Regions from separate parts of the Homo sapiens genome. Here regions 2 and 3 are each reported to be linked to region 1. The links are microRNA targets in miRTarBase. Many come from high-throughput screens and were not tested one by one. Region 1 holds a microRNA gene; each other region holds the end of a gene's coding sequence.

Region 1 (3,246 bases):
GAATGTGGGTGGGAGGGTGGGAGGGCAGGGCTGGGCTGGTGGGGCCTGCAGCGGGAAGGGGAGGCTACAGGGTGGGGTCTGCTGGGCGGGGGGTCTGCTGGGCGGGGCAGGAACAGTAGGGAAGACCCGTGGGCTGGGGCCGGAGGGCTCTCTGGGATTGCAGGCAGGCCAGTCCCCTGCACCCCCAGGCAGGTCTGCTGGGCTGGTCTGACCCGTCAGTCGGCTGGGCTTCATCTCTGCTTACTGACTAAGGGGTGGCTGCGAGGAGGAGCCGCTGCTACCAGGGCATGAGTGGGCCCTCCCTCTGCCTCCCACCCCTTCCCTCCTTCCTGCCTCGCCTTCCTCCCTGCCGGCTCTCGGAGCAGCCTGGCCTGTGTGGCAGCCATGGACAGGTACAGCATGGAGGAGCTGATTCAGCTGGGCCAAGGTAGGGCAGGCAGAGCTGGGGGCTGTGGGAGGCAGAGGAGAGGGCCGGGGCCGCCTCTGGCAGACCTGTCTCTTCCCGTTGTCCACCGTTCTGTGCCGTCAGACCTGGGATGCAGGGATAGGCACAGCCCCCTCTCGGAGCTGCCCCAGGGGTGTGTGTGATGTGTGTCCCGGAAGCACAGGCCTGTCCGGACCTCCGTGGAGTGGTAGAAGAACTGCCCGCTGCCAGCCTGGGGCACTCCTCCCGCCAGGAGCTGGTTCTCACCCAGGCCATTGAGTCAGGCTCCTCTGAGGCTTCCCCAGCACGTGGCAGGGAGTGGGCTGAAACGTCCGGCCTGTCGGCCCCTGCCCACTGCTGGCCAGATGCTGTCCTGGGCTCAGCTGGGAGTTGGGCCCTTTCTGGCATGCCTGGGTATCCCTGACCCTCAGGGCTGCCTGGGCCCGCCCGACCCCTGGCCGCCCAGAGTGGGCCACTGCAGGCATTTCCCTCGGCCGCACGTTTTTGAGGTGTGGGGCTGGAGAGCAGGAGGCTGGGGTGGGCCCGGCCCTCTTGTTGTCCGCGGGCTTCCCAGCATGGACCTGGGTGGCCTGCCCAGTGGCCCGGGGCCAGGCTGGTTCACTGTGCCTTGCTGTGGGCTGAGGTAACTACACTGGAGGCCACCTGGGCTCAGATGGCAGCGTGCGGGACAGCAGGCGGCGCCTCAGGCTCCTGGTCTGTATGAGGCCTTCATGGTATAGGACTTCATGGGGTTTGCTGAGGGTTCCATGTGGTGCCAGGAGCGACGCTGTGGAATGGGGTATACCGTCAACGTGCATTCTCCTGGGCCTGAGGGGTGCGCCCAGCAGACAGGGGTCCCAGGAAGAGGAGCAGGACTGTGCGTGTCCCACGTCCTGTTTCCCCGGCTGCATTGGGATCTGATCTGCATAGGATATGCTGTGGGCCTGCCTGTGGCCCGGCTCTCTGACCCAGGCCTTCCACAGAGCAGGGCTTCGGGACTCCTGGGTGGAGCCAGGCCAGTCTCCTGCCGTGGCCCAGGAGAGGCGTCTCCATCCCAGATCCCTGGGACCCCAGGAGAGGCTGTGCTGTGGGGCAGGCGCAGGCCTGAGCCCTGGTTTCGGGCTGCCTGGGTCTCTGGCCTGCGCGTGACTTTGGGGTGGCTGTCCCGGCCACCGGTGGGGCCAGGTGCTGTGTTGAGTGACCTGCGCAGGGCCCTCTGGGAGAATGGGCGGCCTCTTCTCTTGGCCCCTGTGGCCTTTCCAAGAGCACCCCCTGGCTTGGCAGGGCAGGTGGGTGGGGACTGCACCGCCTCCTGCAGGGACGTGAGCCCGCACCTCCCGCGCCCTGCTCTATTATATTAGAACCCCCTGTGGGAGCTGGGGGACCGAGGTGTCGGGTGGCACCGTCCAGCCAGACCTGACTGCAGCGGGGCCTGGGTGCCCTGGCGCCGTGCGTCATGTTCCAAGTCTGGGTGGTGACGGTCCTTGCGCGCCCTCCTCGGATATTTATATCCCCTGGGCCCCTGCCCACTGCTCCCCTCCCCCACAAGCTGCTGCTGACAGCAGCACGGCCGTGCCCTCCTCCCACCCGACGCTGCCGCCAGTGGCTTGTGCCTCCTCCGAGGGGCCTGTGACCTCCCACACCCCTGGCCCGCTCCGTCTGCCCCGTGGGCTCCTGCCACCGTCCCCGATGAAGATCGTGCCCGGTAGGTGGGCAGCCCTTGAAAGCCTTGTGAAATCCTGGCCCCTTGCTGGGGACAGGGGCCAGAGGGCTGGGGCTGAGGCTGGAGGCCAGGGGCGCTGTCCCTCGCCCTGCACACAGCCTGCCTCATGTGCCCTCACCCAGACCCCCTCAGCCCTGGTCTGCAGTCTCACTTTTGGGGTGTTGGGGCTGGTGAGGAGGGCGAAGTTGAAGGAGTGCAGTGGGTTCAGCTGCAGGCTTGAGGTGGGGGCTCTGGCATCCCTCCATGCCTGCCAGCTGTCCCCAGAGGGCAGCCTTGGAGGCAGAGTGGGCTGCTCGGGCCCCTCTTCTGGTGGGGACAGCAGGGGGAGGCTGGGAGGGAGGGAGGGTGTGTGCCGAGGCCGCGGGCAGTGCTGGGGGGCTGCGGCTTGGCCAGGCGTGCGGCTGGCCCCTCCTCCCGGCGGGTGTGGCCGCGGGGACGCAGGGGTTAAGGCCAACTAACCTTGAGCGTCAGTAGCCCTGCGCAGGGACAGCTGAGCCGGCCGGGTGGGGAGCGAGGGTGGGGAGGCGCCGAGGGCCGGACCCGCGGAGGGAGGAGGAGAGGAGGCGGGCGGGAGCTGTTGTGGGGCTGCCGCCGCGTATGGGGCGGTCCTGCGGGCAGGGCAGGCTCCGGTCCCGGCGCTCCCCCTCGCTCGCCCTGCACGCAGGGAGGGGGCTGTCTAGCCTGGAGCAGCCGGTTCCCAGCGCAGGAAGGGCAGCCCTGGCGGCTCCGCGTGGCGGCTATGGAGCCCTCGGGCAGCCTGTTTCCCTCCCTGGTGGTTGTGGGTCACGTTGTCACCCTGGCCGCTGTGTGGCACTGGCGCAGGGGACGTCGGTGGGCGCAGGACGAGCAAGGTAAGCCCCGCTGGTGGCTGCCAGGGACTCGAGGCGGGGCAGAGGGGCCGCCTGCCTCCCGCCCCTTCATTCCCTGCGCCCTCCCCTTCCTGTTTCCAAGCTGAATGTCAGTGAAAGCAGTGTTGCCCCTCCACCCCACCCTGCAGTGTAGACCCTGACCCTGCTGCAGTCCCAGGGCGGGGCGGGCTCTGCAGTGGCCCTCAGCCTGCAGCCTGTGCGGGACAGGTGGGTGGAAGCGGAGGCCGGCA
Region 2 (3,246 bases), not on the chromosome of region 1:
CAGCTATATCCACTTCTCAGTTGTTTAACTGCCCCTCTCTTTTCTTCACCCTTGCTACAAGACACATGTATCATGCCCCAAATCTTCCCCTAGTTGTCACTGATAATTACTGTTTTAAAGCACTTGGAACCCAAGTGATCAGCCAGCACTGCAGTGTAAGATTCCAGAGGCCAATGTGAAGATTCCAGGGGCTCTGTGAAGGGTGGGCCACAACACAGCTGTTCCCAGCACAACTCAGTGTTTCCAACCTTCTTTTCAGTATTAGGATATCCAAGCCGCCTAGCCCGAAGCCCATGCCTGTCATCCGAGTGGTGGAAACCTGAGCTGCCTGGAGATGGTTGCTGCCATTGCTGCTGCCTCTGCCTCGGAGAAGCCCACTGCCCCTGTTGGCTGTTAACACTGCCTTTGACTTCCTGACTGTCCCCTGGCTGCACCCAGGACTTCGGGCTCCTGTGTCTCACCATTCCCAAGCCCCTGGCCACTCTAAGCTGGGCAGACGGAGCACGAGCACCTATTCAAGGCACTGCAGCCCTTTGGAAGACATTGTCCTGCAAGCAGGAGCCAGGGCAATATCTATATTCCTACAGTGACTATTTTTCTCTGTAGAGAGCCTCCCTTCTGTTGTAGACTGGACTCTGGCTGTGCCATAAGCCAGGCCTTCATCAGATTGGGAGAGGTGACAAGATTTGCCTCAGCCCTAAAAGCTGGAGACACAGATGTCCAGAGTGATTGGAGAATGTCCTGGGGGAATGAAGTTCCTTCCACAAACACAGCTCAGTTCTTAGCAACAAACTGTTTGTTTTTCTACTTGCTCCATCTGCAGCCTACGCTGCCCTGGCCTCCTGCAGACAGATAGTGGGGTTACCTGGCAAGGCCTGGTGAGAGCCAGTGAACCTAAGCTTTGACTGGGTGGCCTTGTCTTTCTGGGGAGGAGGGAATGTACATTCAGGGAGTAGCCTTTTGCGGAAAAATTCTCTAGGGCTACAGACAGTCATGTGTGACTTCTCTCTGCTGTGAAAACTCCCAGAGTCTCTTTAGGGATTTTCCCTAAGGTGTACCACCAGGCACACCTCAGTCTTCTTGACCCAGAGCCTGAAAACTGTTTTCACTGGGTTCCACCAGTCCCAGCAAAATCCTCTTTGTATTTATTTTGCTAAGTTATTGGTGGTTTTGCTTACATCTCATGATTGATATAATACCAAAGTTCTATAGCCTTCTCTTGCAGTATTTGGATTTGCTTGAAACCGGGAAAACTGTTCCCATTAGGCTTGTTAATGTCAGAGTGACACTATTATGAATCTTTCTCTCCCTTTCCTCTGCCTGTTTCTTCTCTCTTTCTCCTTCAAACTTGCTCTGCAGCTAAGGAAGGTGAGTCTACTTTCCCTGAGGCTTTGGGGTCAGAGTATATGTTGTTTGGAGAAAGAGGGCAATCAGGACTCTTCTGGGACCCAGATGAGTTCTTCACTAGCCCTTCTGAACCCCTTGCTCCATAATTGGTCTTTTATCCTGGCTCTGAATGACCCTGCAGGTCATCATGGTTTTCTTTTTTTATTGTTTTTTTTTTTTTCTGAGACAGAGTCTCACTCTGTCACCCAGGCTGGAGTGCAGTGGCGCGATCTCAGCTCACTGCAACCTCTGCCTCCCGGATTTAAGCGATTCTTCTGCCTCAGCCTCCCGAGTAGCTGGGACTACAGGTGTGCCACCACGCCTGGCTGATTTTTGTATTTTTAGTAGAGATGGGGTTTCACCATACTGGCTAGGCTGGTCTCGAATTCCTGACCTCAGGTGATCCACCCACCTCGGCTTCCCAAAGTGCTAGGATTATAGGCTTGAGCTACTGCGCCCGGCCCATGGTGTTTTTCTTTAGGGCTCTTCCTACAACCTTGAGAAGTAGATAGGCATCAGAGTATGGTACTATAGGAATCAGAAAAATTCAAAACAAATGTGGATTAAGTGTTTAGGCTCTATGTGGCTCACGCAGCCAGAATCCTTAAGTCTGTGTGTTTCTGTGTCTCAAGACTGGGCTCACATTCTGGCTTTGTCCATAACAATGCTCTGGGATTTCAGGGAGTTCCCTCATTTGTAAAATGAGGGGGTCAGAGCAGGTGATATCCATGTTTCTTCCCTTTCTGATATTGTTGTCTGTGGCATATTCTTTGTATGGCGAATTTAATAAATTATATTAATGTGTCTCTTTGACCTCCTGGTCTGGTTTCCTTTCACTTTTCAGGGAGGATGAAAGAAGAACATTTTAGTGCTTCTTGGAAGATGGGCACCCTGTTATCCACATGTGGGAGGTGTGGTCCAAACATCCCAAATGCCATGATATGAGGACTTTGTGGCATTTATAGAGGTATTAGAAGAAGCTCACCTCCGTGCTCTGAGTCGTGATTGTAGGAGGCAGCCCCTAACTTTAGCTTTGACCCTCTCTGGAGCAATGGCCTTGTAGGATCCCTAAGCCTGGCCGCATTGTGTCTCATTTGGAAGAGATAGAGGTAGAGTCCTGTGATTACATAGAGATAGAACAGCAGCACTGGAGGTAGATGAGTAACTGCATGCCTTCTGCAGAAATGAAAAGCACTCTGGAAATGCTGACTGCAGCTGTTCAAGGGGGTTCGTTTCTGGCTGTCTCTGGGCATCATTCAATTAGTCTCATGATTTTTTTTTTCCTTTCTGCCAAGAAGGCAGTTGACTGCAGGGCCAAATGGGGACATAGCTGAATTTACATGAATCTTCTCTGGGCCAAAGAAACCAGAAACACAACAACCCCTCATCCCTGGCTTGTTTCCTTTCTAGCTCCCATTTCTCTTCTTCAATTGAAAGAGTGTACATTTTTCTCTGATTTCTTCCCCCTTCTCCTGCTTCTCAGCCAATTCACACCACAGGCTTCAAACACATTGGAAACCTCTTTCCTTTGCAGACCCGGATTTGTCTTCTGACACCCGTGGCTCTCTTCTTTCTCTGGCAGTCTTGTTTGGCATGGCTAGATCTAGACTGTACTTGCTCTTAGAATATTAACAGGGTGGAAGCAGGGCGGGGTTGACCAAGGTGCCAAGAAGACTCACAGGGCTGGAGGAATACTGGAGTGAGTGTGCTGCCATACATGAAAGGGAGGCTCCCGCCGGGCCTCCTGTGCTCAGTGGGAGGAACCAAGATTTGGGTTGCAGATAATGGAGCAGTCTGGAGGCATTCCAGAGACTCGAACCAGGGGTCTAAGAGAGTCCTTGGACAAAAACATGCCACTGG
Region 3 (3,246 bases), not on the chromosome of region 1:
ATCGCTGAGTTTGTGGTCCCCCTTTTCTCTCAGCTGCGTGACTTCCTGTTGGTCTACAATCGGATGACAGAACTCTGCTTCCAGCGCTGTGTGCCCAGCTTGCACCACCGAGCTCTGGACGCTGAGGAGGTGGGGAACTGTGTAGGGAGGTTACGCTGCAAGAAGAGTTTAGCGGTAGACTGCTTCCCTCCTCACCCCACTTCCCGTACCTCTGGCCCTGGCCTTCCCACGACCCTCACCCCTAGGCTGGGCATGGGGAAGAAAGGAGGCGGACCCGACAGGGCACCTTTATCCTCCACTTAAACCCTATCTTCCTTCTAGGAGGCCTGTCTGCACAGCTGTGCTGGGAAGCTGATCCATTCCAACCACCGCCTCATGGCCGCTTACGTGCAGCTCATGCCTGCCCTGGTACAGCGCCGCATCGCAGACTACGAGGCTGCCTCGGCTGTGCCAGGCGTTGCTGCTGAACAGCCTGGGGTCTCTCCATCAGGCAGCTAGCCATACCCAACCCCAGGAAGGAAGGCCTTGGATGGACCCTCAGATTGAAGGACCCGGTGGACCTTGGGGTTGGTGAATCCTAAACAGAGAGAATTCGAGGTTGCCTGAAAGCTGGGTGTCCTTGCTCCTTTTCCTGGAGCCAATATACCCAGTTTTTACTCAGTTTGATTTATATTCTGGGCAAGGAAGCTTTGCCTACTTTATTGGCACAATCCGTTGTTCTGTCGTTTAGTGCATATCTGCTGGCTTCAGCCCTGGCAGCTGAGAAATTGTTTTCTATATGTAGAAGGAAAACCTGAGCATTTGCAGGCATCTGGTTAAAGCAGGGTCTGTGTGTACAATTTTAAAACGGGTAATATGTCATGCTCTTAGTTCATCTTCACAACAAAACTATGAGTAAGCGGTATTAGCCTCACTTAACAGATGAGGAAGCAAGATTCCAGAAAGTACCAGAAGGTCATTTTATACAACAGGAGATTGGTTCCTGCCCAGATGACAGAAAATGGGAGCTCTGTCTAGTTGTCCTTAAGTCTGACTGACTTCAGTGGCTCATAACCGTGAGCCAAGTATTTGTTGGTTCATAACTGTTGTTTTGTGAACTATGTCTTACATGTCTAGAGTTCTGCTGGATCTAGGGAAAGGAGGAGCTATCGAAGTACAACGGATCAAAAAACCACAGGGCTTTTGGGCACTGCCTCCTTGGGAAGTTAGTGGCCACAGAAGAGAGATGAAACCTGTAAGAAGTCTGGAGTCTTTTGGAACTTCAGCCATTTCCCCAGGTTGTTACTTTCTTAGTATGTACAGTCTTCTCAGGATGAGCAGTAAAACCTTTGAACAAAGGTCTGTGTGGTTGTCTTCACGGGCAATCAGGAAGGGAGAGAGCTGGGGACCATATTCTGCAATGCAGCCAAATCCGAGGAAGAGAAACTGAAGGGAGAAGTAGATGGCAATGGTTATGATAAAAAGGGATAAAACTAAATCTTCGGGACTTCTTTAATGCTACGTTAATGTTTCACTGCTCGTCTAGAAACTCCTAAATCCAGCTTTCTATCATCTGCCCCACATTGGTCCCATTGAGTACATTCTGTGATTTCTAATTCCAGCCTCTCCATTCTTTTCTCATTATTGCCTCCCCCGCCCCCCAACTTTGTGTAATTTACTTCTGTATTCAGCAGCCTGGATAGCATATCATTCCATCACCCCATTTTCTTGCCACCATTGGCCATCTTTTTGTATCATTCCACTTATTCTGTCTTTTCCATTCCTTCATTCAAACTGCTAGAGAAAAACAGTTGTGTAATGAATGCCACTAAATATTCAAGGCCTCCAACCTCAGCCAAGTCCTCACACCAACACGCAGTCACACCAACACACACCTTTATGGGTTCCTGGTCCATTTCCTTCTCTAATTACCATGGCAGTTATTTTACACCTCTACTGCTGTCCTTAATCCCATACCCCACCCTCATCAGGTGACCCTGTTTCCTTTTTTAGAGAAATTGAAGCTCTTAGACATTGGTTTCCACAGTAATAATTTTAAAACTTCTTACAACTACCTACAAAGCAGATGTTCTATCCTATCTACAGAGCAGAAAATTGAAATTCTCAAGTAGCAGACCCGGTATTAAAGTGCAGATCTGACTTTAAAGTCCATGTTCATTTTACACAGCAGGCTGCCTCTTAAGATAGTATTTATTGAGCACACACTTTGTGTAGGTTCTGATTTTGGTAGATGTCATGCTTTATATTAATCTTTACAACAACTATAAGTAAGAGGTATTAACCTCACTTAACAGATGAGGAAGCAAGAATCCAGAATGTGCCAGAAGGCACATTCTGCAGATTTCGTGCAAACATTTATACACAGCTTCTTTTTTTTTTTTTTGAGACAGAGTCTCGCTCTGTCACCCAGGCTGGAGTGCAGTGGAGCGATCTAGGCTCACTGCAACCTCCGCCACCCGGGTTCAAGCAGTTCTCCTGCCTCAGCCTCTCGAGTAGCTGGGATTACAGGCATGCGCCACCACGCCCAGCTAATTTTGTTTTTGTATTTTAAGTAGAGACGGGGTTTCACTGTATTGGTCAGGCTGGTCTTGAACTCCTGACCTTGTGATCCGCCCGCCTCGGCCTCCAAAAGTGCTGGGATTACAGGTGTGAGCCACCACGGCCGGCCTATACAAAGTTTCTTATTGAGAAAAGTGGTTCCAATCATGTTTTTTGCCCCCTTTAGCTGCTATCTCTTGAACAGAAAAGTTTGTTAGGAAGGTAAAAGTTGCTGACTAGGACCTTACCCACAGGGTGGCACTCTGTCCTTGGGAAATATAAATGCAAGTAAAACAGGTTTGAACTTCTTAACTTCCAGAAGATAGGAGGATGGGACCTGTGATACTGTGCTGCTGGTGGGAGGACCCTTCCACATCAACATTTGTGTGTATCCTTGCAATAAACTTCCATTGTGAATTATCTGTGCTTCCCGTCCTTCCATGTCACACAATAGTAATTGCTAAAGAAGAGCTAGGAGCATAGATCTGTCTGATTCTAAAGCCTTTGCTCTTTGAACTTTGAGAGCTTCTATCTGTACTTAACCTGCCTCTAGGCATGAAAAAACAAATGTCCCTCAGTCTGACCCATCTCTTAATCCCTTTCTTAAAATTTCAATCTCTTGTCCTGGTTCTTTCCTGTTTATAAATATGTTCAGTGTTCAGGAGAAAAACCTTATTCCTACCACTTTACCTTCCATAATCTGGTCTT

What was found. The annotated mature microRNA hsa-miR-661 reads UGCCUGGGUCUCUGGCCUGCGCGU and lies in region 1 at 1,548-1,571, shown strand. An mRNA with a match to its seed (bases 2 to 7 or 8) in the 3' UTR can be bound and repressed. Matches are read on the target gene's strand: a 7mer-m8 pairs with bases 2 to 8, a 7mer-A1 pairs with bases 2 to 7 and ends in A, and an 8mer does both.
Region 2: miRTarBase lists TUFT1 as a target of hsa-miR-661. Seed matches in the 3' UTR shown: 7mer-A1 at 1,061-1,067 and 7mer-m8 at 1,592-1,598.
Region 3: miRTarBase lists TIMM10B as a target of hsa-miR-661. Seed matches in the 3' UTR shown: 7mer-m8 at 2,406-2,412.

The regions. Positions count from the first base shown.
Region 1 is chr8:143,943,531-143,946,776 of GRCh38, reverse strand. MIR661 (microRNA 661) reads left to right here and starts at 1,498; the gene lies at 1,498-1,586. It overlaps LOC124902040 (a long non-coding RNA gene), which reads right to left and starts at 2,913. Exons shown (of 2, transcript XR_007061144.1): 1 at 2,607-2,913; 2 at 1-1,211. It also overlaps a transcript of PLEC not described here. RefSeq lists an enhancer at 1-68 and a silencer at 2,597-2,866.
Region 2 is chr1:151,581,385-151,584,630 of GRCh38, forward strand. TUFT1 (tuftelin 1) reads left to right here. Exons shown (of 13, transcript NM_020127.3): 13 at 260-2,199. The coding sequence ends at 323. Among named protein-coding and RNA genes, the nearest start is that of SNX27, 29 kb to the right of the region's middle.
Region 3 is chr11:6,481,724-6,484,969 of GRCh38, forward strand. It overlaps TIMM10B (translocase of inner mitochondrial membrane 10B), which reads left to right. Exons shown (of 3, transcript NM_012192.4): 2 at 34-129; 3 at 322-2,958. The coding sequence ends at 498. Among named protein-coding and RNA genes, the nearest start is that of TIMM10B, 1.8 kb to the left of the region's middle. RefSeq lists an enhancer at 1-400.